Linked DNA regions of Homo sapiens. The protein of the gene in region 4 interacts with the protein of the main gene of each other region in a biochemical or structural test. Each region holds a gene or a part of one and is shown on either strand. Other genes may lie near its edges. The genes, in order: RPS14, DGKK, DGKZ, PSMD9, DOCK4, PBK and SLCO1C1.

Region 1 (3,025 bases), on a different chromosome or scaffold from region 4:
CCAGCCTCAGTCTCCCAAAGCCCAAAGTGCTAGGATTACAGGCATGAGCCACCGCGCCCAGCCTTAAAAGATTTTTTCAGACTTTTTTTCAGTGTCTTTTTACTTAATGAAAACGAGACAGTTGCAGTTACCCTGTCTAAAAGGGTTTTTTCCTCTAGAGAAGACGGTGGGCTAGATGTCAGAACCTGGATTTGTCCTGTGCCTCTGACATCTTGCGCACAGCTCAGCCTGTTTCCCTTTCTGGAAAGTGAGTTAAGACCACGTCAGGAAATTCGAGGAACTGGCAGATGGGGCCACTTCATGTTCACATCCATCTGTTAGGTACTGGGGAGTCATTTGGGGAGCAGCAGGATCTGTTGCTGATTGGTTAGGCCATTGGTCTAGGGAGTCCTGGGGGCCCTTCCCATCCAGCTCCAGGCAATGACGCTTTCTCTTCCTCCCCACAGAGGATGTCACCCCCATCCCCTCTGACAGCACTCGCAGGAAGGGGGGTCGCCGTGGTCGCCGTCTGTGAACAAGATTCCTCAAAATATTTTCTGTTAATAAATTGCCTTCATGTAAACTGTTTCAACTCCAGCCTTCTCTCCTTCATCAGGGGCTACTCAGGCATTTGATTTCTTCCTCCTATTTGGCTTCTTGGGAGAAAGGAGCCTGAGGAGAGCTGAGATCCTGGTGCTGCATTTGGGGTCTTTTCCATGCTACTTGCGGCATTAAGTTGCCTTGGTCATCTAAAGCAGACCAAGGCGTTGGAGACCTCGTTTTGAGTGGAGATGCTGGTTCTAAATATGGACCAATTCTTAAAGAGCCAGAGTGGGAACTGTTGATCCAAGTGTAGCCTGAAGCGAAAGAGGAGCCTTCCAGACCCATGCCATATATAAACACACGTGGGTGTGCATTCTCCCCCCACACCTTCTGTGCAAAGCTGGGAGCTCACTCCACTGCGTCTTGCTTTTTTTCACTTGGCAGATCTTGGAGATTGTTCCACATCAGTACATAAAGTACATAAAGATTGTCACCCCACAAATACACACCAAGTCCTATTTTCATCAGCGATAAAAAAGAAAAGTTCTTGCTTTCCGGAAGCTTGCATGCGGCTCTGAGTACCCAGTGACACCAGATGGTACTCAGCGTTTTGCAAGGGATTACCACAAGGCCCCGTGATGGTGCCTGCCATGGTTAGGACAGGCTGGTGGCTGGGTAGGGTTAGTGAGACCCAGTGGAGAGGATGCTGTGTGTCACAGGCTGGAGAGGTGAGACCATTGAGGTAGTCAGTTGTAGAGGAAAGAAACCAGCAAGAGGGGAAAATCTGTTGGGATGCTGCTTTTAGCCTTTGATGGCGTGTTCCAGGCAGAGGGAATAAGCAAATAAATGGGTCCTGAGACAAGGGGTTACTGTGATGAGGCGGCGTTGGTTACATGCCAAACCTTGCTAGGGATTTTAATAACAACATTGAATCTTAACCTGATGAAATAACAGTACTCCTGGGGAGGCGGGAGGGATAGCATTAGGAGATATACCTAATGCTAAATGACGAGTTAATGGGTGCAGCACACCAACATGGCACATGTATACATATGTAACAAACCTGCACGTTGTGCACATGTACCCTAAAACTTAAAGTATAATAAAAAAAAAAAGCTTGCAAAAAAAATATAACAGTACTCCTTAAATTGTTAAAAGTCATGAAAGTCAAGGACAGGAGATTAAGGAGGCGTGAAAACTAAATGCCCATTGTGGTATCCTGGATTGGATTCTGGAACCAGAATAGGGTATTAGTATAAAAACTAGTGAAATAGGATAAAGGCAGGGCACAGTGGTTCACGCCTATAATCCCAACACTTTGGGAAGCCGAGACAGGAGGACGGATTGAGCCCAGGAGTTTGAGACCAGCCTGGGCAACACAGGGAGACCCCGTCTCTACAAAAAATAAAAAATTAGCTGGGCATGGTGGCACACGTCTGTACTGCCAGCTACTTGGGAGGCTGAGGTGGGAGAATTGCCTGAGCCTGGGAAGTGGAGGCCGCAGTGAGCTGTGATTGCATCACTACATTCAGCCTGGGTCACAGAGCAAGATCCTATCTCAAAAACTAAATAAGTAAATAATAAATTAAAAAATATGAATAAAGTCTGGAGTTAAAGTCTGGAATAAAGCTAGTAGTAATGTACCAGTGGTTTCCTACTTTTGGCAAATGTATCATGGCGATGTAAGATGGTAACAGGTGAAACCGGGTGAGTGGCACACAGAAACTGTATCTTTGCAACTTTTTGGTAAACTTAAAATTATTCCAAAGTCAAATTATTAGGGAAAAAAAATGAGGGGTGCTTTTATACTGTCAGTCTGGCAGTCTAAGGCAGGATGTGGTGCACAGACCCTCAGGAGGCAGACACACCTGGAGGAAAATCCTATTCCACAGCTTCAGACCGTTCAACCTTAGGCAAAGTACTTAACCTCTCAGCCGTTTAGTGGAAACTCCTGTGATGATGGCTGCCTCAAATGGAATCACACAAGATCAAAGTGTTTAGCGCAGTGCCTGGCACTGAAGAAGCTGCTGCTATTCTTACACTGGTGCAGGTCTTGTGCCAAGCAGCATAAAGGACAGCTGGCTGGAATCGTGGTAGAAAAATGCTGCCAGTCGCCGGAGCATTCTTTTTATTTCCTGTGGTGAGACTGTAACTTGTCCTGCTCTTTCCTGGTAACCAGGGATGCAATCAGCCGGGTCTTTGAAAGCAGTTCCTTTCGGGGGTTTTGCCTGAAAGGAGAGCCAAGTTGTGGTGTGGCTCAGGTGGGAACGTAGCAGCCTATTGACCGCAGAGGCGGCTGGGCTGCTGCCCACCTGAGACTGCAGCCTGCAGCAGAGGCGCCTGAAGCTGCGACTGCAGCCCCAACCAGACCTCTAGAGACAGTCGCTGCCCCTCTCCCCTGCTCCCCTTCTGGCCGCCTTCCCATGCCAAGGTTTCCTTCCTAGCGTTTCCCAGTCTTCCCTCTGGCCTCTGCCTATCTCTAGACCACATTGCAACATGCCAT
Region 2 (3,181 bases), on a different chromosome or scaffold from region 4:
TCCCCACAAGCTCCATCTTGGCCTGATCTTCTGGACAGGCTGTTGGGTCAGTCCTCAAGTCACCTTCAAATCTCCCATCTTGCCCTTTTCCCTTGAGTACAGAGGGGCATTGAAGTGATCAGAAAAAACATGGGCCTGGAGAAATGAAGGCTAGAAGCCTGTGCTTTCCTGTGGTTCTTCTTGCAAATTTCTCATGAAAACAAACTATTCCTAAATCGCTCCAAATACTAATTCACATTTTTCAAAAATGCCTTCTCCCAGTCAGGGCAAATCTAATCAAACCCCAATGCCCAGAGAGGTTCTCTCTGGTCAGCCTTGCATCTTCACCCCACCCTTGACTCATACCTTTAGTTAACTGTCCCTTCCCACTTATCAAGAGAAAACTGGCCTCTCCCTACTTCTCAGACAAACTTAGCGTGCTCAATTACCTGATTCAGTCCAATGGCTGGTTCATTGAGGTGCACAATTCAGATTCCAAGCACTGGTTCTCAACTCTGGAACTCCACCAGCCTAACCCACTTAAACCAGCCACCTGTGCTCCACCTCCGCAGGGGTGAGGAGAAAAATATTAACAAGGGGATAGTCCCCAAATGTCTGATTGCTGTGCCAAACTAAGTCCTAGCTCTACAACTAGAGAAGAAAGTCAATGGAAAAAGATGACAGAAAACATTTAAAACTTATTTAAGCATCAGAATGTGTTAGCTTGTTGTACATATTTGAGTAGTGAGTGTGCTGTTGTTGTGTCTTTGACTTTCTCTGTTATTAGTCTTTCTTCCCAGGAGGAGGTATTAGATGAAATCAGCAAGCTCACTATTGCAGCCTGACTTGGCTCCTCTATGGCTGCATGCATTGACACCTGCACACACACTCACAGAGTGGGAACCAAGTTGCATTTTCTTCAGAAGAGCTTTTTCCGAAGGGGAAAATGTCCAAATGAGCAAATTTAGGACTACAGAAGGAAGTCCTGGGAGAAGATAGCTTTATCTTGGCAGTGACTAAGCAGGGCTGTGTCTTATAATTATTTTTATCACTGATGATAGTAAACTGTAATAAGACTCCATCTCTTGTGCTTACTTTGCTGCAATAATTAGGTCTTTGTGCACAGTGATGCTGCTGTTGCTCTGTTGTGCCATGTGGATTCCCTTTCACCTACCCTGTCCTCCCACTCTGAGTCAGAATGATATTGACTGAAACCACTAGTATTTGGGGCTAGAGTCAGCTCATGGAGCACAGTTGATAGATGACAAGGCCCAGGAGCAGGTGTGGCTTGCTCAATCCCTCAGTTACCTCCTAAATTGCTAAGTTACCAGTAGTTTCCCAAAAAGGAAGATAGCTTGCCAAGCACCTGTTCTTGCATATGCTCACTTGGAAACAAAGCAAGAAGTGATGCCTCAAGGGAGTTGTCTTAGCTCTGGGAGTGTGAGCTCCTTTAAGGACTTTGTTAACCACTTGCAGTAATTAATACAATTGCTTGGGTGGTGGGACCAAACACCAAATATCCATCTCAATTATGTTCAGACATCATTAAGACCCAAAGCTCTAGGGTTTGGTTGTATCTTTGGTAGCACTTTCTGACGAATTGGTTGGGTAGGCAATTCCTGGCCAGAAGAATAGTGGAGAAGAAAAAGCCGATACATTTGAACTGCCACCAACTGCTTCTGGTGTCAATACTATAGGAGGTAAACAGTTATGGGTCCCCTTCTCCAGAAAGGCCCTGTGCTGTGTCCATAAGAGCAGGTTAAGAATAAGAAAGAGATTTTTTACCTTAATAAAACTGGGCCAGAAGAAACAGTCAGGGTCAACGTCATCTTCCCTCAGGACACAAATGGAAGAATTTTTCTTTCACGAGAGGTGGAAAATAATACCAAAGCAACCAAACCCATTAGCACCATTCCATCCTATATGAGACCTTGCTTGGCTATATGATTTGTGGAATTGCATTTGTCTATTTGTCAGTGAATCTGTAACCCATTGTTGTTTTCTGCTCTGTGTTTTTTATTTCCTCAGAGGCCCCTGCAAATAAGCAGCAGGGCCAGGGGCTGGTTGGGGGAGGAAGCTGGGGTATTTACATGGTAACAGGAAAAAGCAGAAAAAAAAGATCCACAAAGTGTGCCTATTCCTCTCCCCCCGCCAAATGGAACACCAGTCCTCAATGTTAATAAAGTATTGCTTCTTTAAATATTTTAATAAATGGATAAACATAATCAATGCCGTGCCTCATCATTTACCTCAGCATAAAGGGAGTTGAATGGTGGTGGAAATGGGGGGCAGGTGGGCTTGGGTGGCCATCCAAGCTCTAAACAAGCCACATGCAGGTCACGATGGCAGGTGAGGGAGGACAGCAACAGCGCAAACCAAGAATCTCCATCAGGGATGATCATGATACTAAAGGGGTTGCCAAGAAGAACTCTAAAACCTAGCTGCGACTCTGGATGATCCTGTGGGGAAATACATGCCACTGTAATTGCTCCAGGAGCTAATTCTCTGCAGGATACAAATCTCAGTGGAATGCATTAGTTACTGGGGAGGCAAAGTGGGATAGAGTGTAGTCCAGACTGTTAAATAAATGCATAAGGCACCTTGAAATCTGACAATACAATCTATTCCCCCCAATGCATACATCATACACTCCTCTCCTCTCCAGAGGGGTTTGAGGTGGGAAGCCATATTCTGTTCAAATGCAAAATCAGTTCGGCTGAGCATTCAATACAGTTTAATTTCTGTCACACTAATAGTGACCCCAGGGGAGCCAGTTCTTAGTCGTGTTTAATAGGTAGGGAACTGAGGCTATACTAGGCCAGGATTCCACAACATGCTACACCAGAGTGAGAACTTGAGTCTTCTAAATCCTTGATTTTCCAAACTGAAAAGTGTCTTATTTAGAGACAAAACATTTGTGACCTTCGGGACCACATTTCAGTCTACCCCCAAAACTACATTCTTAGGCTTTATGAGGGGAAACAGCCCTGTTGTTGAGGCGCTACCACCGGGGTGGGCCCTGTAATCCATATTAAGAAGTCTGTACTGCACCCTGTAGGCTAGTGAAGCACCATCAGAATTGAATTTTAAGTCTATTTTTCAAATGATCATACAATTGCCCTTTACTTTTGGTGTAGAGCTCCATGAATTTTAACACATGTAGACATTCATGTAACCACCACCACTATCAGGATACAGAACA
Region 3 (4,222 bases), on a different chromosome or scaffold from region 4:
AGCTGCCTGCTCACAGCCAACGGAACACCCCTCCTACTCACAGCTCCGCACTGCCCATTTGGCTCCCCTGCCACTAGAGCCCTGGGAGGCCTGCTTCTTTCAGCCCACATGCCTGCTCCTCCACCAGACCGCGAGCTCCTGGGGGGCCGGGGCCAGGTCTAGCGCATCTGGGCATGCCCGGCATGGTGCCTGGCAGTGAGTCCAGCATTTACTGCTGATCAGTGCAGGAGGAAAGAACAGGGAATTCCACAGGGGAGGGGCCAGCACCTTAAGGGAGGAGAAAGGCTTCTTCCACCTTGTGTAACCACATGCAACGGCTGACCACAGGCTCCAGCTGGCTCAGGCCACTTCTCTTTGTTGGGTACAAGGGGATGGCAACAGCCTTGGTTTGGGTGGCCACCTTCCTCTCCTCTCTAGAGGACCCCAAGAGTGACACCTGGAGGCCCCTTTCTGGGCTGGATGCTATCGCCCGCTCCATGTTCTCCATGGCTTTCTCATGAAAACTAGATAGTCGGTTTGGTGACATGAAGTCACAAGGGGAGGGTGGTGGGCAAGGAAAGGGGAGGAGGGGCTGTCTCAGAGGCTTGGGGGCTAGGCGGGGATCCTAAGCTGGCCTGAGCTCCTTGGTGAAATACCCCCAGTCTCTTCTTTCACATCCGAGTCCCTGACTCAGCCCCTGCTAGGCCTCAAAGAGATGTTTGCGCAACAAATGACCAACCCATTCCTTTAGTGCCTCCCTCCAAGCCAGACTCCCGCTGCCATCAGAATTCATCCTAAAGCACCCAATCACCTTTTACTGACTCTACTGTCAGCTGAGCAAAATGCAAAGACCTGGGGCTGGCAGGCAACAGGCCTCCCAGCCTCCTCTCTGCTCTTTCATATTTTTAATGCTGTATTTGACACTTACATAACTCACTCCACCAGACACTACTCTAAGTGTTTTTACAAATATTAAGCTACGAATCCTCCTAAGAATAGTTGGTATTCTTATCCCCATGGCCCGTATCCTCATATTGCAGATGAGGAAACTGAGAGACAAAGCGGTTAAGTCATTTGCCTGAAGTCGTCCAGCTAACATGTGGCAGTGCTGGGGTTTGAACTCAGTAGTGTGTTCCATGGCACATACCCTCGACCCCTCAGGCTCCACCCTGGATGCTTCTGGCAAACAAAACACCGCGGGTCCCTTTTCCACGTGGCACCACGTGGCATCCGGTGGTCTCCCTACCTGGAATACCACTCCCCTCTCTACTCAGTGAATTCTCCCTCATGGTTTTCCTCTCAGACCCTGGGCAATCAGCACTAATGTGCAAATCTGCATCCCCGGACAGGCTGTGAGCCCCAGGGCCTCACATTGCTTCTAATGGCATCCCCAGAGTGTAGAAGTGCTGGGTGTGGTTTGAAGAGTGAGTGGAGGGAACAGCGCATGGTCTGGACTCAGCCTCATGGATCCCGCTGACAGCACAGGCTTCAGGTGGGCACAGAGCCCCAGGAGTGGGCCAGCTCCCGAGAACTTCCTGCTGCACTGGGTGGACAAGTCTGGTCTGGGCTGAGCTCTGGTGTCTCAGAGGCAACACTGAAACCGATCCCTGATGGGAATGCCAATATATCTCCCTTAGCCTCCCAAAGGGGCCCCTTTGTTATAAACCCCTCGCGGGCCCCCACTCTTCTCTGGTGACCGTCCCATCCTTGTCTTCTCCTGTGTCTGCAGAGGGCTCCCATTCCCCATCTGCTGGGAGAAGCATTTCCCCCTCACCCCTCATTCAATATTAACACCCTGGCCGGGCGGGTGGCTCATGCCTGTAATCCCAGCACTTTGGGAGGCTGAGGCGGGCAGATCACCTGAGGTCAGGAGCTCGAGACCAGCTTGACCAACATGGAGAAACTCCATCTCTACTAAAAATACAAAATTAGCCGGGTGTGGTGGCCCATGCCTGTAATCCCAGCTACTTGGGAGGCTGAGGCAGGTGAATCGCTTGAACCTCAGAGGCAGGGGTTGCGGTGAGCCGAGACCGCGCCATTGCGCTCCAACCTGGGCAACAAGAGCAAAACTCCATCTCAAAAAAAGAAAAAAAAAAAATTTAACACCTCCCCCCTCAACTTTCTGACCATGTTGCTCCCTCCCCCATCAGCCCCCAGGGCCCCACCCCACTCTCCAGGCTTCCACACTACTCACACAGGGGACAAAGGCCTTCACAGTAGGTTTAGCTTCAAAGGCCCAGAGGATCTGCCTCTGACCAGCTACATGACCTCAAGCTAAGCCTTTTAACCTGCCTCAGCCTCAGTTTCCTGATCTGATAAATAGGGCTAATGCCCACCCTCGTCTCTCTCAAGGGAGTGTTGCAGGCTTGAAGGAGAAAGTGTTTGTTCCTGGGAAACAATTCCCCAGTTTACTGAAAGTTTTAAGAAAGAAAATAGCCGGGCGCGGTGGCTCATGCCTGTAATCCCAGCACTTTGGGAGGCTGAGGCGGGCGGATCACGAGGTCGGGAGATCGAGACCATCCTGGCTAACATGGCGAAACCCCGTCTCTACTAAAAATACAAAAAATTAGCCGGGCGTGGTGGCGGGCGCCTGTAGTCCCAGCTACTTGGGAGGCTGAGGCAGGAGAATGGCCTGAACCCGGGAGGCAGAGCTGGCAGTGAGCCGAGATCGCACCACTGCACTCTAGCCTGGGCGAGAGTGAGACTCTGTCTCAAAAAAATAAAATAAAATAAAAAAATAAACACAGAGGCCTAAAAATTAGGACAACTACTTCGGAGCACAATTTGGCAACATCTGTCTAAGCTGAAAATACACAGACCCTGTGAGCAAGCACTGGTGGAGAGAACACAGAGGGATCGCTTGCAATAGCGAAAAACTGCACACCACCCAAGTGTCCGTCAACAGAGCCTGGGCAAATAAGCTGCTGTTACACAATGGAATCGGACGTGGAGGTTAAAATGGATCCGTGAGAATTCATGTTTAGGATGGTTAAATCTCCAAAACAATATTGAGGGAAAAACCTAAATGCAGAATATGCCTGGTATACCATTTAAACCAGAGTAAAATCATACGAAACAGCACTGTATGTTGCTAGGCATGAATACCTATGTAGGACAATTTTAAAAACAGGCACAAGAACATCACACACACCAAAATCAGAATTGTGGTTTCCTCCAGGGAGTAAGACACAGGGGCCTCCATCTCTATCTAAAGCAAATATGGCCTAATGCTAAGCTCCAACCAAGCTAGGCAGTAGGTGTCACCTTATTCTGCACACTTTTCTAACGCCAAGATATTTAATGTGTTTAGAAAGATTTCAAAATCATTTCTTAAAAAGACTCCAGAGGCTGGGCACAGTGGCTCAGGCCTGTAATCTCAGCAACTCAGGAGGCCAAGGTGGGAGGATCACTTAAGGCCAGGAGTTCGAGACCAACCTGGGCAACATAGCAGGACCTCGTCTCTACAAAAGAAAGAAAGAAAGAAAAAATGAGCCCGGTATGGGGGCCCCCACCTATAGTCCTAGCTACTCGGGAGGCTGAGGTGGAAGGATTGCTTGAGCCTAGGGGTTTGAAATTACAGTGAGCTATGATTGTGCCACTGCACTCCAGCCTGGGTGACAGAGGGAGATCCTGTGTCCTACAAAAGACCCCTTGAGGGAGACCAGCCCCCTAGAGCTCCCTGGGTCTACCAGGGATGGTTTTGGCAGCCTGTCCCTCACCCTTTCAGGGCCCTCAGGATGGAAGGAAGGTCTCCCCCAAGGGGATGCCTTCCAGAGGTGGGTGGGTGGTGGCAGGCTGTGTCAGTGGGGTGTCCGTGTGGGTTGGGGAGCAAGAACCAGCTTGCCCCCTTTCACAACCGCCCCCGCCTCTCTCTGTAAAATGTCAGCAAGCTGGGGAAGGGGGCGGAGAGACAGGCAAGCTGTTAACCCGCGAGATGCTGGGGTGTGGGCGGTGCGGGCCCAGGCTCCCAGACAGCTATTTTGGCATGTGCTGAGATGGGCTCATCCCTGGCAGGGGAGAGGCCTCTACGTGGGAGCTCTGAACTGATGCTCTGCCAGGAGCAAGGGGAGGAGGTCTCAGTGTAGATGAGGAGGATGCTGGGGCCCTCCCTCTCCTCTCAGACCTCTCACCATGAGGCACTGGGTACGAGTGAAGCGATCTTCCCTGCCCCAGACCAGCCACCGACCCCTGGGTGGTATGGGGGCTCCTCTGAGCATGTCCATTGGGCTTTAGACTCCCTGCG
Region 4 (4,222 bases):
GGCTGGGTGTAATCAAGATTTCACTTTTCTCTGAAATCCTCTAGAAGGAAAAATGCTGCATAAGCCGGGCACAGAGGCTCACGCCTGTAATCCCAGCACTGTGGGAGGCCGAGGCAGGCAGATCACGAGGTCAAGAGATCGCGACCACCTTGCCAACATGGTGAAACCCCGTCTCTACTAAAAAATACAAAAATTAGGCCGAGCGTGGTGGCTCAGGCCTGTAATCCCAGAACTTTGGGAAGTCAAGGTGGCCGGATCACGAGGTCAGGAGATGGAGACCATCCTGGCTAACACGGTGAAACCCCGTCTCTACTAAAAATACAAAAATTAGCCGGGCATGATGGCAGGCGCCTGTAGTCCCAGCTACTCGGGAGGCTGAGGCAGGAGATTGGCGTGAACCAGGGAGGCGGAGATTGCAGTGAGCCGAGATCGCGCCACTGCACTCTAGCCTGGGCAACAGAGCAAGACTCCGTCTCAAAAACAAAACAAAACAAAACAAAAACAAAAATTAGCTGGGCGTGGTGGCGGGTGCCTGTAATCCCAGCTACTTGGGAGGCTGAAGCAGGAGAATTACTTGAACCCAGGAGGTGGAGGTTGCAGTGAGCCGAGATCGCACCACTGCCCTCCAGCCTGGCGACAAAGCAAGAATTCGTCTCAAAAAAAAAAAAAAAAAGTGCTGCATAAGCCTAGTAATCCTGGAGACATTCAGTCCAGGAGAGGGAGTCCACAGGGAGGTGGCCAAAGGGCACCCCTGCTACAGGGCTCTTGCCAATTGGCTGGGTTTGGGAGGAAGACCCAATGCTACAAAATCTTTGATTTTTCCAGAAAAGCTGAAAATTGGGATCTTTGAAGTGAAATTCTCTGATTTTTCAGTACAGATAGCTAATTCAAAATGTTGTGAACCACCATGGCAATCTGCAGGCCACGCCAGCACAGCAGCTGGTATTTTGATACCTTGTGCCTGTCAGTGGGATTGCGGTACTACCTGACCTGCCTCCTCTGCCACTGTCACTTTGGAGCAAAGGCAAGACCCTCAGTCATGAAGGGATTCAAGTTCTCAACCCACAGGAGCAGATGTGGGAAAAGAACCCAGATCTGAACAAGTGGAGACATGCACTTGGGAGGCAGACTTACATAATACATGGTCACTTTCACTAGAAAAGCCCTCCCCCAGTGAGGTCCACAGCATCCCTAGACTCTGCAATGCCTGGCACAGGGAAGTGCTCAATACACAGCTGTTGGGGAATGGAACGAACGACTATTTACAACATATTACAATTCTAATCAAAATGTTGAAAGGGTTTTTTTCAGTACAAAATGTTTCTGCAGTGTATTTCAAAAAACAAATTTGCAATTATAACAAACGTACCATATTAACATAAGCTGTTAGCTGGGCGCGGTGGCTCATGCCTGTAATCCCAGCACTTTGCGAGGCCGAGGCGGGCAGATCACCTGAGGTCAGGAGTTCGAGACCAGCCTGGCCAACATGGTGAAATCCCGTCTCTACTAAAAAAATACTACTAAAAAATTAGGCCAGGCATGGTGGCTCACGCCTGTCGAGGCCGAGGCGGGCGGATCACCTGAGGTCAGGAGTTGGAGACCAGCCTGGCCAACATGGTGAAATCCCGTCTCTACTAAAAAAATACTACTAAAAAATTAGGCCAGGCATGGTGGCTCACGCCTGTCGAGGCCGAGGCGGGCGGATCACCTGAGGTCAGGAGTTCAAGACCAGCCTGGCCAACATGGTGAAACCCTGTCTCTACTAAAATATAAAAATTAGCCGGGCACGATGGCGGATGCCTGTAATCTCAGCTACTTGGGAGGCTGAGATGGGAGAATCACTTGAACCCGGGAGATGGTGAGTGCAGTGAGTGAGCCGAGATCATGCCACTGCACTCCAGCCTAGGTGGCTAAGCAAGATTCCATCTCAAAAAAAAAAAAAAAATTAGTCCGGTGTGATGGTGGGCACCTGTAATCCCAGCTACTTGGGAAGCTAAGGCTGGAGAATCACTTGAACCTGTGTGTATACACATGTGTATATATTTGGGAGGCCTCAGCCTCCCAAAGTGCTGGGATTACAGGCATGAGCCTCTGTGCCCAGCTTATGCAGCATTTTTCCTTCTAGAGGATTTCAGAGAAAAGTGAAATCTTGGTTACACCCAGCCTGAGTCATTCACTCATATGTGTATTTTGCATATATACACGCATGTGTATATTTTACATACACATGTATGTGTGTATATATTTACATGTATGTGTAGATATATACACATGTATGTGTATATATGCTGTTAACAACACGGGAGATTACATACAGAAGCCAAAGGACCTATGCATTATTTTCCAATTTTTTTTTCTTTTCTTTTTTTTTTTTTTTTTGAGACAGAGTTTCACTCTTGTTGCCCAGGCTGGAGTGCAATGGCACAATCTCGGCTCACGGCAACCTCCGCCTCCTGGGTTCAAGTGATTCTCCTGCCTCAACCTCCTGAGTAGCTGGGATTACAGGTTCGTGCCACCATGCCCAGCTAATTTTGTATTTTTAGTAGAGACAGGGTTTCTCCATGTTGGTCAGGCTGGTCTCGAACTCCCGACCTCAGGTGATCTGCCCACCTCGGCCTCCCAGTGTGCTGGGATTACAGGCGTGAGCCACCGCACCCAGCCATTATTTTCCAATTTTTATGTAAATCTATAACTGTTCTTTAAAAAGGGCTGTTTTGAGAATAGATTTTCTTTCTTTTTTTTGAGACAGAGTTTTGTTTGCTCTGTCGCCCAGGGTGGAGTGCAGTGGTGTAATCTCGGCTCTTTGCAACCTCTGCCTCCTGGGTTCAAGTGATTCTCCTGTCTCAGCCTCCCAAGTAGCTGGAATTACAGGCATGTGCCACCACATCCAGTTAATTTTTCTATTTTTAGTACAGACAGGATTTTGCCATGTTGGTCAGGCTAGACTCAAACTCCTGACCTCAGGTGATCTGCCCGCCTTGGCTTCCCAAAGTGCTGGGATTACAGGCATGAGCCACCGCACCCGGCCGAGAACAGATTTTTCAAAAAAAGACCAATAAGGAATTGCTCAAACAGATTTTTTTTTTTTTTTTGAGACGGTCTCTTGCTCTGTCACTCGGGAGGTGGAAGTTGCAGTGAGCCAAGATCGTGCCACTGCACTCCAACCTGGGTGACAGAGCGAGACTCCGTCTCAAAAAATAAATAAATAAATAAGATGTGATGCAGATGGAATCAAGATTCAAACAGATTAAAGAGGAGTTAGTAAGTGAAAAATGTGGAGGATAAATGCTAATAGGACTCTGTGGTGGAGACGGTTGCCTACCTATGGCTGAGTGGATAATGGCCCCCAACACATCCACATCCTAGCCCCTAGAAGCTGGGAATATGCCACCTTACATGGCAAAAGAGGCTCTGCAGATGTGATTAAGGACCTTAAGATTCGGACATGATCCTGGATTATCCAGGTGGGCCTGGTGTCATCACAGAGGTCTTTATAGGTGAAAGAGGGAGGCAGGAGAGTGAGAGAAAGAGATGTTATGACAGAATCAGAGGGAGGGAAATGCGACTGCTGGCTGTGTAGATGGACGAAGCCATGAGCCAAGGACGGTGGGCAGCCTTTGGAAACCAGAAAAGACCAGGAACAGGTTCTCCCCTAGATCCTCCAGAAGGAGCCAGCCCTGCCAACACCTTGATTTTAGTCCAGTGAGACCCATCTGGACTTCTTATCTCCAGCTACTAAGTCTGTGGTCATTTGTTATGGCAGAAACAGAAACAAATATACTATCCAATCTGTACTCTCTGCTAGCTCTTTAATTAAAAACAAATCACGTCATTTGTTATGGCAGAAACAGAAAACAAATATACTATCCAATCTGTACTCTCTGCTAGCTCTTTAATTAAAAACAATCAGCACCTTGGAAGGCCAAGGCAGGAGGACCACTTGAGTCCAGGAGTTCAAGACTCACCTGGGCCACTTAGTGAGACTCGTCTCTACTAAAAAAAATTAGCCAGGCACAGCGACACATGCCTATAGTCCCAGCTACTTGGGAGGCTGAGGCAGAAGGAGCACTTGGAGCCTGGGGGGTTGAGACTGCAGTGAGTCATGTTAGCACCACTGCACTCCAGCCTGGAAGACAGAGCAAGACCCTGACTCAAAAAAAAAAGAGAGAGAGAGAGAGAGAGAAAATGAAACCAGAAATATAGAACCTTAGAGTCTAGCCCA
Region 5 (4,222 bases), on a different chromosome or scaffold from region 4:
CTGATCTGAAGGAATGCATGGTTAGCCTGGTGGATTATCCTGCTCAAATATCAAGTGCTGTCAGCAGGGTTTAGCTAGTAGTGGGCAACTTGACACTGAGGTCTCTGGCAAGTTCCCATAGTGCAGTGATTGTACTCTTGACTGCAAAGGCCAAAATGACATTTAAAAGAGCCTGAGTTATATCCTTGCCCAGATGGAAGATGAGTCCACCTCTATAAAGAAGAGAGGAACAAGAATAGACCTCTCAACAGTCAGAAAAAATACAGCACATTATCAGAGGGCTGGTGCATTCCCGGTGTTTTGCTTTCTGAACATCACATAGTACCAAATCATAACAATACTGTTAAGGATCTAATTTTGTCTCCTAATCTCCCTTTTTATGTCCCAGTTCTCAATGATTACAAGTTTCTCTAACCTCTAGGGCATGGTAAGAGGCTGCTTCTCCTTCTGACAGGTTTTTAACCAAGTCATTAGAATTAAAAGTATACAAGAAGAATCAAGAAAGTATAGGGAAAATATTCAGAATTACCTCATGGAACATATTCAAGGCCATGCTATTTGGGAAGTAGATGGATCCTGTTCTTAAAAAAAACATGTGGGGCTACTTCCGGTAATGGAGTTTGGCGGCAGCAGCAGCTCTGCACTGGTCTTAAAAGATCAGTCCCAGGATGATTAGGGTCAAGTTCAATAAAACAAAACAACATGCAGCTTAGCTGAGTCCAATATAATGATTCTCAAGTTGACAGATTAAAATGCAGTGAGAAGCTTGGGGAAAAGAACTGCAAGAGATTGGCCCTAGTGAAATTCCTTCCCCAGGGCTGGTGGTGACAGCATGTCCAGTCGTCAGTATGTGTTCTGGTAACCGGAAATGAAGCTGATGCAAACCAATAGCCTCTCCATGCAGAGAGAGAAGGGAAAGGCAACCCACTTCTGCTCAGCTGGTACACAGAAGGTAGGGGAATTTTAAAAGTCTACTCATAAAGTTGGTTAAGCTACAAATATAAACTGGAGCAATTGACTTCTGATGGAGAAAACATTTGATTACGCTGCTGTGTAAAAATAAATAAACTGCACTTATCGTTTTCTTCTATTCAGCATAGATGAAAAGAAATTACCTGTGACTGAGATAATGCTCCAGACCCTTTGCTCTCTTGCGAAAGAAAGAAACGGACTGACATGAGAAGCTCCTGAATGCAGCAGCGGAACTCCTCTTCGTTTTGCCCACCAGTGGCAAGGGAAAACAGCCTTCGAGATTGAACTATATACTTAAAAATGTATTCTTGTGCCTTAAAAATACAATTTTTAAAAGTTAGCTTCAAAGGAGACAAAGAGTATTTATTTAGCAATGACACGGCATAAAAACCATGGTATGGCATTAAACTTTTACATTATTCATGTAGACACCAAGGCCTTGTGAGGCTTTTTTGAACAGTATTTACTTTAAGGGGGAACAGCCACTTTTCTCTGATGCCTAATGAGAGAAAAAAAATTTAAAAACACTTTAAATTTAAAAGAAATTTAAAAGAAATAGAATTTTAATAGAAAATTTAAAAACACTTTAGCCGGGCACGGTGGCTCACGCCTGTAATCCCAGCACTTTGGGAGGCCGAGGCGGGTGGATCACCTGAAGTCAGGAGCTCGAGACCAGCCTGACCAACATGGAGAAACCACATCTCTACCAAAAATACAAAACTGGCCAGGCATGGTGGCCCATGCCTGTAATCCCAGCTACTTGGGAGGCTGAGGCAGGAGAATTGCTTGAACCTGGCAGGCGGAGGTTGCAGTGAGCAGAGAATGCACCATTGCCCTCCAGCCTGGCCAACAAGAGCAAAATTCCGTCTAAAAAAAAAATTAAAAAAAAAAAAATTTTATCATTCTGGAGTATGATGAACACTAAGTGTTTTTGACCCTCAGATGTTTTTTAAATTTAGTCAACAAAAAGATAACTGTTTTTTAAAAAATAATTTTGTTTTGACAGGTAGTACTCTTGCCACTTAGCATTTTACCTTCAATCAGCCCAAATTACAAATGAATAATTCACAAAATGCTATTTTATAAAATGTATACATTGTCTACTTAAAGCTACTGACACCAAATAGGATGGTCCTCAACAACAGGAATCAGAAGACTACCAGGGCTGTTACTGGACAATTCCTTTAAGAATTTGTACTCTTTTTCAACATGTTTGCAAGTAAGGGATTAGTATCTCCACAGACAACTGAGCATATGGTGCCCAGCGATGTGGGCAGCGTTAAGCCACAAGACCCGGTAAAGCCTCAGGTTTCCTCATTATAATCCCCGCTAAGCCACCCTATTTGCTCTTAAAATTTAACATAAATGGTTCTCCGATGGTCTCTGTCAGGTTGGTGGAAGCAAGAGCCAGGAACTTCTAAGCTTAACTGCCCCATATAGACTTCTCTCATAAACCCTCCCTCTCTCCTGCTCATCTTAGACTTCACTTCAAGTACTCTCCAGCCCAGAGGAACAAGGATTCAATCCTGAACAGTTTCCAGTAGACTACCCTGGCAAAGTCCCCTTCAAATTTCATCAGCTCTCAAGCAGTCACAAACTGATTAAGATCCTTGAATTGGAATGTCAGTAATACATCATCACCCATTACTGTCTGTGTAGAGGAACCAATTAGTTTAAGCATCAGCATGCAACAGCTTTGTTAGACTCTGCTGTTATCAACAGCATGTTATCACCTTCAGCACCTCCTGGATATGCTCTTGCCGCTCTGCTTCTGTGATCCGGTCCACGTACCATTTGAGCACTTTGATGAGATCTCTAAAATACAGGGGAAAATGTGCAGAATGTAAAATTGGTCTAATTCTCAATTAAATGCCAACAAATCCAACTCTTAACTATATCATGAGGAGGTTTCTTTTCCCATCAGTTCTCACATTTTCCTGTCAATCTGCTGTATAATAATTTTACTAAATCTGCAGATCAACACTGCCACCCTTTTCAAAGCTTAAGGGAGAAACAACACTCAATCTGGACATATTCCATAGCCCTGCTGTTTCTGGTAATGCCTCCAAATGGGTGAACACAAATATTGGAGAAAAGGACTGTGCCCAACCAAGTGCCTGGCAGTGTGAGTGCCATGGTCAATACTGTAAAACTGCTCATTGGGATTTCTTTCCCAGTGACCACGTAAACAGCTGGATGCAATATCATTAGGCTGCAGGCAAAACGGGGTGGGAAGGAGGGATGGAGACAATGCCTCCCCACTGCTATGCACACCTTATGGATTTATCAAGCCAATTTTCTGACCCATGAGAAGAACCTGGCTTATGTCAATATGTGCCTTAGGAGAATTTCTAGAAAGGCCAAGGTAATTTTTTTTCCTGTTTTGAAAAAATGTAAAAACAACAGCCCACAACTCTCAAGATGACAGTCTTACACCTTGAACTTTGGTCAGTTCTTGGTTTCTCTTTTTTCTTTTTCTTTTCTTTTTTTTTTTTTTTTTTGAGACAGAGTCTTGCTTTGTCACCCAGGCTGGTGTGCAGTGGCTTGGCTCACCGCAACCTCTGCCGCCCTCCTGGGTTCAAGCAGATTCTTCTGCCTCAGCCTCCCAAGCAGCTGGGATTCAAGTATGCACCACCACGCCCAGCTAATTTTTGTATTTTTAGTAGAGGCCCGGTTTCACCATGTTGGTCAGGCTGGTCTTGAACTCCTGACCTCAAATGATCTGTCCACCTTGGCCTCCCAAAGTGCTGGGATTACAGGCATGAGCCACTGTGCCCAGCCAGTTCTTGGTTTCTAGGAAACAGTTTACCCAGCAATGTTTCTCTGGGTCAGGGGAGAATACTTGGATGTGCCAGTAGGTAGATGTTGGTGGAGTGCTATTTTTTAAGATAACATGCTAGTGAGTTTCTGATCACCCCCAGCCTAAGAGGATTCCACAAGCCTTATTTGTCTTTTTAAGATCCTGCTTTCCTGGCCAACCGGAAGTGTGAGAAATTATACTCTTGTTTTCTAGCTTCCAAAGACAATTTAACTTGGAAGCAGTAACCTCCTCACACTAGGGCCCAAATTGTTAGGCTGAGTGGGCCGATGTTTCAAAACTATTCCTGCGGTTGCATTTCACTCTCAGCAAAAAATCACACTGATGAAGTGTCAAGTCTAACAAAAATACCTTCATTCATTTCGATGTTGGAGACGTCGATCTTAACCTGTCATGGCTGGGAATATCCAAGTAAACAGGATCAAATGCTTA
Region 6 (4,222 bases), on a different chromosome or scaffold from region 4:
ATAACATGGGATGTTCCCTTCTCTTGTTTCAAATACTTTGAAATGCTGGGCACAGTGGCTCATACCTGTAATCCCAGCACTTTGGGAGACTGAGGCAGGCGGATCACTTGAAGCCAGGAGTTCGAGACAGACCAGCCTGGTCAACATGGTGAAACCTCGTCTTTACTAAAAATACAAAAATTAGCCAGGTGTGGTGGTGCCCGCCTGTAGTCCCAGCTACTTGGGAGGCTGAGGCAGGAAAATCACTTGAACCCAGGAGGCGGAGGTTGCAGTGAGCCGAGATCGTGCCACTGCATGCCAGCCTGGGCAACAGAGTGAGACTCCGTTTTAAAAAAAAAAAAAAAAATTTTGAAACGCTGGACAAATGTAAACCTAGAGTTTAGGAAGGGAGTTCAAGTTGTTATATTTGGAGGTTATCACATTTTTTTATTAGTTTGTGTTTCTGCACATATGTGTTAAATTTTTTACTATTTTAGTATCTGCACCAAGAAAAGAAACTGCTTCATGGAGACATAAAGTCTTCAAATGTTGTAATTAAAGGCGATTTTGAAACAATTAAAATCTGTGATGTAGGAGTCTCTCTACCACTGGATGAAAATATGACTGGTAAGTTGTACTCTTAAGTTTTAAAATTTTGTTTTTAATACAGTGTTTACATTTTTAAATACGTAAGTCCACATGGATCAAAAATCAAAAACTATTTTTAAAAAGTATATGGTAAAAAGTCCCCTTTTTTTCTCTCTCTCCCAGTCAGCCTGCAGTCTTCTCCCTTGCCACATGTACAGTATAAATTACTGTATTATTATTAGTAGTAGTATTAGTATATATTTTAACTGGAGTTATCTTTGGGAAATATTTCTAACTGGATTGGGATCTTTAAGCAGTAAAGCATCTGGGAATAGAAAGTAAAATTTAGTAAGGTTGTGTAAAGCGGTTTATTTAGCATGAGTAAAGTGACAAGATTTAGGAAACTGGTAGAAGAAACTGGAATGAAGCAGAAAAGAGGGGTGCTAATGAAGGCTGGTCTTTGGCTCTTTGCCCTTTCTTCTCTATTGCATAGCTTCTCAGGGAATTTAAGATATGTTCTTGGTGAGAAACAAGAGCCAGCCTCAAGAGAAAGCCTCTGCTTGCAACATATTATTTAGTAAATAATACTTAAATTTGTCTCTTTATATCAACAGAAGTTAAACAAATGGTTAATAAATGCTGTTTAGAACATATAAATGCCTGAATTTCTAGCTGAAGTAAAAGTTTACAAGTTGAGTTGAAGGCAAGAGTCAGAATGAATGGACAGACTTTATAAATAAATGATGTCTGTAATCATTAATAAAAATAGAACTGTTGTGAAACCTTATGCTAAATAACTTACAAAATGGGAACTTTAGAAAGTAAAAGGATAAATTGTCAAACATAATAAAAATGAGGGTTTTTAAAGTATTTTTCTCAATGCTTAATAGAGCAAACAGACAAATGTAAGGATGTTAAAGATCTGAGTAAATAGTAAGGCAAGTACCTCTGCACCATAATATTTATTAAAATTGACCATATTCTTAGATCACACAAAAAAACTTCGAATTATAAAAAGTATGAATAGTCTAATAGGTGATATTCCTTAACATCAATGCTGTAAATCTAGAAATTTGTAATAAAATAGGAAACAAAAACTCCAAACTTTTTAGGAATTTAAAACACTTCCGAATAATTTTTGGCTAAAAAGAGAAATCAAATTCCATTTATAAAATATTTAGAAAATATAAGAATATAACAAGTCAAACCCTATTTGATATGTTCAAAACTACTCAAAGGAAACATTTTCATTATTTAACTTTTATGAAGTTAAGTTGAATATTCAACTGAAATTGAAAAAAATGACGCCCTAAGAACAGAAAGCAGAAATGAATGAATTTGATAGCCTATAAATTCTACATAATCTTAATGTGATCTATTCTAGAACATGTCAGAATTAATCTGAAGTTCCTCTTTGAGGATACATGTTCAATCAAACATGGCTGGGAAAACTCGATGAAAGGAGGAGGAATCTTCCTGAGCAGATAAAAAGTTTTATAAAGCTACAGTAATTAAAGCGATGATACTCATGCCAAAATAGGCAGAAAAATAGAACATGAGAGTCAGGAAATAGTTCCCAAATAGAGGAATTTGTTGTGTGATAAAGGTGACATTTTTGTATTAGTGAGAAAAGAGGTAGTTTAGTCAGTAAATGATGTTATCTGGACATTTTAGAAAAAAACACAGCTGTTTTCTATCCTTACACTTGAATCCCCATATATTGAAGATTGGGGGAAAAAGTAACAGTAGAAAAAATTGTAGATAAATAGTTCTTTAATGTTGGCTGTGGAGAGGACTTTAAAGAAGACACCAAAGCTAGAAACCATCATTAAAAAGCCATGGGTACCTCCATTTAAAAAAAAAGAATTCTATATCACAGTGGGTTGGAGAGGGGCAGGGAGCTTAAGACATTAGAAACTGAGATAAATGTATAAGATATTTAATATTTCTAATGCATTAAGAGTTATTAGTAATCAATGAGAAACAGATAAAAGCTCTATTATGAAGAGACTGTTGAGAAATGAAAAAAATGGCAATTAGGAAAATATATATGTAATGTTCTTACTAATGTTTTAAAAGCTAAATAACAATGAGATAATCTGCTATCAACACTCATCACACTGTGTAAATTATCTGTTAAACGTTTCTCCATTCCTCCATTAGGCTTGTAAGCTCTAAGAAGGGAACCTTGTATATCTTGTCCACTGAAATATCCTCAACTCTAGAATAGTGCCTGACTTGTAAATATATTATTGAAGGAGTAACAAGATTGCTAGTAAATAAAAAGATTGCTAGTATGAGCAACAATGTAGGTTAACATGTCCTCTCATACACTAAGTAGAACTTGTAACTGCTGTTTTACTGAGGTTAGAATAGGTTTTGCTGTGGTAACACAGACCTCAAAAACTTCAGTGACTTACAACAACCAAGGCTTATTACTCAAGCTGCATGGCCATTAGCACCTTGTTCTGTGTCATTCTCCCTTTAGGACTTATACTGATGGAACAGCCACTATATGGAACATGGCCACCATTATGGGGAGGGTGAAAAAGCATTGGAGTGGTACTGTCCAATACAGTAGTTATGAGCTGCATGTTGCTATTTACATTAATATTAAAACATTGAAATTATTTTCTCAGCCACCCTAGCCACAATTCAAGTGCTCAGAAGCTACATGTGGTTAATGGTTACCACATTGGACAATGCAGATTTAGGAGATTTAATCATCATAGAAAGTTTCATTGAACAATACTGCTCTAGAAAGTCTTGCAGTGATAGTTAAATGCTCAAGCTCAGAAATGACACAAGTCATTTCTTGTGGTAGAACCTTTCAGGTGACAGTTTGGAAAGCTGTATTTAAAATAAGAAAAACCTTTAAAAATGTTTATGCCCTTTGACCCTATAGTTTCATTCTTAAGAACACAGTCCAAAGAAGTAATTGAGTAATTAGGCAGTACAGGCATTTTTTTTATAATAACCTGATATATTATTTCCTGCAAAACTTCATTGCGCAAAAGTTTCAAGATATAACTAGGTTTATAGAAAAAAAAAACAGGGTTAAAACCTATGCAACTTTGAAAACTAAAGCAGTAACAAAAACAGTTAATAATCCTAATAAAAGATACTAACACATTAAATCTGCAAGGGCATAAACATTTTAAAATATTTTTCTTATTTTAAATGCAGATTTCCAAACTGTCGTCTGAAAGGTTCTACCAGAAGAAATGACTTGTGTCATTTCTGAGCCGGAGCAAGACTTTCTAGAGCAGTGCTGTTCAGTGAAACTTTCTATGATGATAAAATGTTCCTTTGTAGCCATAAACCCTGGGTTTATGCTGAAGGTTACATATGAGAGTATTTTCAATAGATACTTTTCATCAAGATGAAAAATTTGATCTGGCTTTCTCACTAAAAATATATATATATTTTTAAGCGTGTGGGAAATGTGTTGGCAGCTCCTTTACCTGGACTCACTCACAGCTTTTGTAGTTAGCAATAGCAATTCTTAAAGCTACTACACCAGGCATATGCTCAGGGAAGGCATTTCTGTAGGCAAAGGCTTTCTATTTGTGAGATTTGCCTCTGATCACTTCAAAAATAACATTTATGTACTGGGAAAAATATCAATCTTTTTACTGTTTCAAAAATACACATT
Region 7 (5,010 bases), about 100 Mb from region 4:
ATCACTTAAAACAGTGCGGATGCAAATACTAAGAAGAAAGAAAGTGGATTTATCTGAGGTGAGCTTTGCCTGGGAAGATCAATAAATTGAAAGAGAAACAGGAGAATTGAGGGTATACAGAAGGAAGTGATTAAAATAATTGCATGAAAAAATTCAAGTAAGGAGGAAAATGAAAATATGAGTGTACTGGCTTGAATTGTGTCTCCCAAAAAGATATGAGGAAGTCCTAACCCCCGGTACCTGTGAATGTCACCTTTCCTGAAAAGAGAGTCTTAGCAGACCTTATCAAGTTAAGATGAGGTCATGAGGGTGGTCCCCAGCCAAAGATGACTAGCGTTTTTTTAAGTACAGAGGACAGAGACATAAAGGGAGAAGATGGCCATGTGGTAACAGAAGCAGCTGTTGGAGTGATACACCTATAAAACAAGGAGTTCAGGCTGTCAGCAAACACCAGGAGGTGGAAGAGGTAAGGAGGATTCTTCCCTACAGGTCTCAGAGGGAGCATGGCTCTGCTGACACCTTGATTTTTGACTTCTGGCCTCCAAAAGTGTGAGACAATAAAGTTCTGTTTTAGGTCACTCAGCTTGTAGTACTTTGTTAGTGCAGTCTTAGGAAATGCATTCATTTATATGTTGTCTGTGGTTAATTTACCACCAGAATGGCAGAGGTGAGTGGTTGTGATAGAGATTGCATGGTCCTACAAAACCTAAAATATTTCTTATTTGTCCCTTTATAGAAGTTTGTTAACTCCCTCATCTAGAGTTTGGAAATGGGAATGAAAGGCTGAAGTAGGCTACAATCCAATGCAAGGTTGCACATAAGAAGCTCTGAATAAGTGTAAACATTATGTGCATTCAAAACAGTAACATTAACTGTGGACTCTGGAAATAAGAAAAGGAATCGTGTTGGAGAGTGAGACTGAGCCAGTTGGGAATAGACAAAATTACATTCTCAAGGGAGAATTTCATTTCTTGGTGAGGAAAATTATGCCCTTTGGGCTGGTAAATACTGTCTCCTCTTGAATAAAACAGTGGTCTGGCCACCTGTTAGACACTGAGAAGTCTAGACTAACACTCAATGTATTCGGATGTTTGCTCACTATTTCCGATGGAAAAGTCTGGTTTGATTGTTAAAGTAAAATATTTGGCCTTTCAGAGTGTGAAAACACCATTGCTTCATTGCAAGGTTTAATATAAACCCATTTTTCTTGCATTTTCTTTTCTTTCTTTTGTAGTAAAATGTGCTTGAATAATATTAACTATTCTGACCATTATGTGAACTAAATATATATATATATAAAATGATGATACCTTCCGCTCATTTGCAATGTGCTTTTGAATACATTATATAATTTAATCCTTAAAACAGCCCTATAAATCTGTTTTTTTTTTTTTTAAACAAAAAAATTCTGCTTTACAAAGGAAGAAGTTGAGACTCAGTAAAATTAAGTGACCATCCCAGAGTCTCAGCCACTTAAGAGTAGGGTGAATCTTGGATAATTCTGGTAGCAAATTTATTTATTGGTAGAAAATAAATGCAAACTACTACTGCTTAAGATCCTCTAAAGTTTTTCTCTTGGAAAAAGAATGTATTAGAATTGTGGACTTTCTCAGTGCAAGGATTTATTTATCCTTGGAATTAGGCAGAATAAACAATTGAATGCCAAAAATTCAACGTGTTTCTTTTCTGTTTTCAAAACTCATAGAAATTGTAAATATGAGCAACTGATCATGTCTCTGAGAATTAACTCTTTTTGTACAGAGCGCTGCAGAGCTTTGATTGTGACCTGATACTTGGTCCTTAAAGATTCTAGAACACCAATGGAAAAGAAAACCATGTAGCAAATTAGCCCAAGAACCGTTAAAGACAAAACAAAACAAACCAAAACCAAAACACACAAACAAAGAAAACACAAGGATCCCAGTGATGTCCCTAAGGAATAGTTGGCTTAAAAACTTTCTGGAAGGAGGAGGGGTCTCTGTTATAAACTTCCGCCCTCCTCTGGCTTCTGTTCCTTACCCTCTGCCCCCTGCGGAGTTGTGTTTTCTGGGAATCAGCAAGTAAGATCACAAGTGGTCTTTTCTTTTATTCACTCTCTCCCATAAAGAAAGCTTTATCACGTGTGGCCTTAAACTTGCAGCAAATTGCAAAGAAATGGCTCAAAAGCTTCAGCTCTTTCTGTGCCCTGGGAGCTGAGATGCACGTCAGTGGCCTTGCCAGCGTGGCCAATTCTCTGCTGACTGCCAGAAAAAAGAGGCCAGGAAGAAAGAGGAAAGAGAAGAGATCGCTCAGGGGTGAGACCATGCCCTTCATCTTTTCTTTTCCCTAATCTCCTCTGCTTGTGTCCACCCACACTCTCCCCACCTGGCAAAATTGTTCAAAATTGCTGTGGAGTTTACCTCAGTTTCCTCTTTCAGTCTGTGGTGTGTGGTCCATCCTCTTGCTGAGCACATTGAAAGGAACTGGCTATCTTTGATCTCTTCCTCCAGGTAAGACTTGGTTCTCTCATTTTATATTTTGTGACTAATACATCAGATTCTTATGGGAGATTAACCCTTAATTTCTGTGCGATTTATGTTTTATCCATAAAAATATCAGTGAAAGGTGATGATCCCCTCATTAGTTTGATGGAAATAAGAGAGAAGATTGGTTAAAGAAATCAGATAAACTCAAATTTGAGTTCAAATTTTGAGTCTCATGCTTATAAATTGTTTAGCTTTTGACAAGTCACTTAATTGCTTTGGGCCATCTAATTTAAAAAATGGAATTCTAATATTACGTTTGTTGGGTTGTTTTAAGGATTAGAAAAAGTACGTACATTACTCAACACAAAAATAGTACTTATTAAATCTGAATCTGACACAGATAATTTGTATTAGGTGAGAAATTAGTTTCTAAACAACACACACTCCTCTGCAGCAAGTGCCGTGAGGCTATTTTTTAGTTTGTCTGAAGGGAGGCATCCTGGTGTCCAGAAGTCAAGCCAGGACAGAGGTTTTCCTCACAGGAGATGGCCAAGAGAAGAGAGGGAGGAGCGTGGTTGCCTTTAGGACTTTCTCTGTGGCAGTCCTTGGGGACTGATTGCTGGACAGAGTCCGAGTCAGTTGCAGAGCAGAGGGGTTGAGTACATCTGCGGGATCTAACTACAACCTTCCTAAGCCACTTGCTCTCTCCATTTAAAATCTGGAGGGCTGATTTTGAAACTAATGAGGACTGATTATTCAATGTTTTTGAACCAAAGGAAGAGAAACTGCTTGGCTTGTTTTTCTTTGGCCTCCAGAATAAGTTATGCTCCAAACCCAGGGTATTGGATGAAAACTGTCGTATGTCTTTTCCTGGAAGAATCTATTCAAGTGGCCAGAGATCAATTAAGGATTTGCCAAATGCAAATAATTCTGAATAACTGTGTACTCTTGCTCTACTTCTGCAGTTGCAAATGAAGAGAGAGAGCCTGCAGGCCCCAAGGATCTTTCCGTTCATGTCATTGAGCTTCCTTCCCTCTCTTTTTACAGGGGATGAACTGTAGCCTCCTTGGAACATACTACACTTGCAATAATTTGCGCATTAACCATCAAGACACTTCAGTAAAGCTATGCAGTGCCAATAGTTTAAGCTGGATCCTATTTTGCCCTAACACAAAGTGAACTGAGATGACTATATTTATATTTCATTATACTTTTGAATTTTAGTTACAGTGATTTTTGTGTCAACACCTCCATATATTAGATAACTTAAAATGTGCTATAGTATCTCAAGTTTTTCAGTAGTGTTTTTAACATAATTATTTTTTCTCTTTGACATTAGCATTCTAGATGTAACACTTTGGATCTTTTAAAGATAAATTTAGGATAAATGATAGCAGATTTTATTATTAAACAATTTATTTGTATTTTCTGGTCACTGACTTTAATATTATGACTGATGAGAAATAATATGATATCTGAATCCCCAAAAACAGAAGGCCAATTTGAATTATATAATTTAATCCTTTGAAGAATATTGCAATTTAAGCCAGAAATTTAATAATTATCCGTTTCTTATTTTAAAACCTTTCTGGTTTGTATATCTCTTGCTTGGCAATATTTTTACTCATAGTTTTGTAGTAAAGATACCTATTTAACATTGTATAACTCTGCATTTCCCAAACCCTGTTTTCCTTGTCCTGGCAAAATACTGTTCTAGAAAAGTAGTCCTAGTGACTCAGTAGATATAGGAAGTTGGCTGTTGGTATCAGATACTGTTAAGGAAGAATCTCTATATTCTTCATTTCTTAAACTTTGTTTTTTAAATCAGTAATAGATGTCGAATTTTATCAACTGATGTTTTTCATGTAATGAAATTCTATTTTTTATTTTGAATTATTCATGTGGTAATTTAGGTGAATAAATTTCCTGTAATTAACCAATTGTTGCATCTTTTAGAATAATTCTAATCATAGAGCAAGAGTTAATTTGGATTTGCTAGCATTTACTTAGAATTTTTATAATCTATGGGCTTGATCTGAAGTTTTCCTTTCTGTGCTATCTTTGTGCTGTTTTGTTACCAAGATAATGTTATTTTTGTCAAACTAATGGAGACAATGATTATCTGTTTCCATTATCGGCTATCTTTCCTCAAAGAATATCCCTTGATAAAGCACTTCTGGTGCATCATCTATCCTTAGTATCTTTGTTTAGGGAATAGTTTCAGAGTATTTTTGATAATGTCTTTCTTGGCTATTTTCTCTTCTGGTTTTTATCAATATAGGTAATGAATATTTGCTAGAAACTTATCCATTAAGTCAAGATATTAAACTTACTTCAACATTCGATGCATCTTTTTATGTTTTATACTCCTAAATATCTGTGTTTTATCTCATTAATATTATGTATTTATATCTTTGTTTTTTGTCTTGATTAACATTATTAGCTCTTTGTTTTGCTTATTTTTTGTTTTTAAATTTTTCTCTTTCACTCACTCTTCTTTTTCAATTAAAAAATTAAAGTTATGAATGCTTATAAAATGAATCCA

Evidence for each region.
Region 1: the proteins of PSMD9 (region 4) and RPS14 form a complex in vitro, tested with the Homo sapiens proteins (one study listed by IntAct).
Region 2: the proteins of PSMD9 (region 4) and DGKK interact in a test that uses a peptide from one of them, tested with the Homo sapiens proteins (one large-scale study listed by IntAct).
Region 3: the proteins of PSMD9 (region 4) and DGKZ interact in a test that uses a peptide from one of them, tested with the Homo sapiens proteins (one large-scale study listed by IntAct).
Region 5: the proteins of PSMD9 (region 4) and DOCK4 interact in a test that uses a peptide from one of them, tested with the Homo sapiens proteins (one large-scale study listed by IntAct).
Region 6: the proteins of PSMD9 (region 4) and PBK interact in a test that uses a peptide from one of them, tested with the Homo sapiens proteins (one large-scale study listed by IntAct).
Region 7: the proteins of PSMD9 (region 4) and SLCO1C1 interact in a test that uses a peptide from one of them, tested with the Homo sapiens proteins (one large-scale study listed by IntAct).

The regions. Positions count from the first base shown.
Region 1 is NC_000005.10:150,441,775-150,444,799, reverse strand, and holds the end of RPS14 (small ribosomal subunit protein uS11), read left to right. Parts: intron 1-446; coding exon 447-514; 3' UTR 515-2,165; downstream 2,166-3,025. UniProt on the Homo sapiens protein: Component of the small ribosomal subunit. The ribosome is a large ribonucleoprotein complex responsible for the synthesis of proteins in the cell. Part of the small subunit (SSU) processome, first precursor of the small eukaryotic ribosomal subunit.
Region 2 is NC_000023.11:50,364,432-50,367,612, reverse strand, and holds the end of DGKK (diacylglycerol kinase kappa), read left to right. Parts: 3' UTR 1-2,204; downstream 2,205-3,181. UniProt on the Homo sapiens protein: Diacylglycerol kinase that converts diacylglycerol/DAG into phosphatidic acid/phosphatidate/PA and regulates the respective levels of these two bioactive lipids.
Region 3 is NC_000011.10:46,353,599-46,357,820, reverse strand, and holds part of DGKZ (diacylglycerol kinase zeta), read right to left. Parts: intron 1-4,222. UniProt on the Homo sapiens protein: Diacylglycerol kinase that converts diacylglycerol/DAG into phosphatidic acid/phosphatidate/PA and regulates the respective levels of these two bioactive lipids.
Region 4 is NC_000012.12:121,894,994-121,899,215, reverse strand, and holds part of PSMD9 (26S proteasome non-ATPase regulatory subunit 9), read right to left. Parts: intron 1-4,222. UniProt on the Homo sapiens protein: Acts as a chaperone during the assembly of the 26S proteasome, specifically of the base subcomplex of the PA700/19S regulatory complex (RC).
Region 5 is NC_000007.14:111,866,869-111,871,090, forward strand, and holds part of DOCK4 (dedicator of cytokinesis protein 4), read right to left. Parts: intron 2,788-4,222; coding exon 2,706-2,787; intron 1,287-2,705; coding exon 1,116-1,286; intron 1-1,115. UniProt on the Homo sapiens protein: Functions as a guanine nucleotide exchange factor (GEF) that promotes the exchange of GDP to GTP, converting inactive GDP-bound small GTPases into their active GTP-bound form. Involved in regulation of adherens junction between cells.
Region 6 is NC_000008.11:27,816,949-27,821,170, reverse strand, and holds part of PBK (lymphokine-activated killer T-cell-originated protein kinase), read left to right. Parts: intron 1-476; coding exon 477-606; intron 607-1,510; exon of another isoform or gene 1,511-4,222. UniProt on the Homo sapiens protein: Phosphorylates MAP kinase p38. Seems to be active only in mitosis. May also play a role in the activation of lymphoid cells.
Region 7 is NC_000012.12:20,693,319-20,698,328, forward strand, and holds the start of SLCO1C1 (solute carrier organic anion transporter family member 1C1), read left to right. Parts: upstream 1-2,013; 5' UTR 2,014-2,489; intron 2,490-5,010. UniProt on the Homo sapiens protein: Mediates the Na(+)-independent high affinity transport of organic anions such as the thyroid hormones L-thyroxine (T4), L-thyroxine sulfate (T4S), and 3,3',5'-triiodo-L-thyronine (reverse T3, rT3) at the plasma membrane.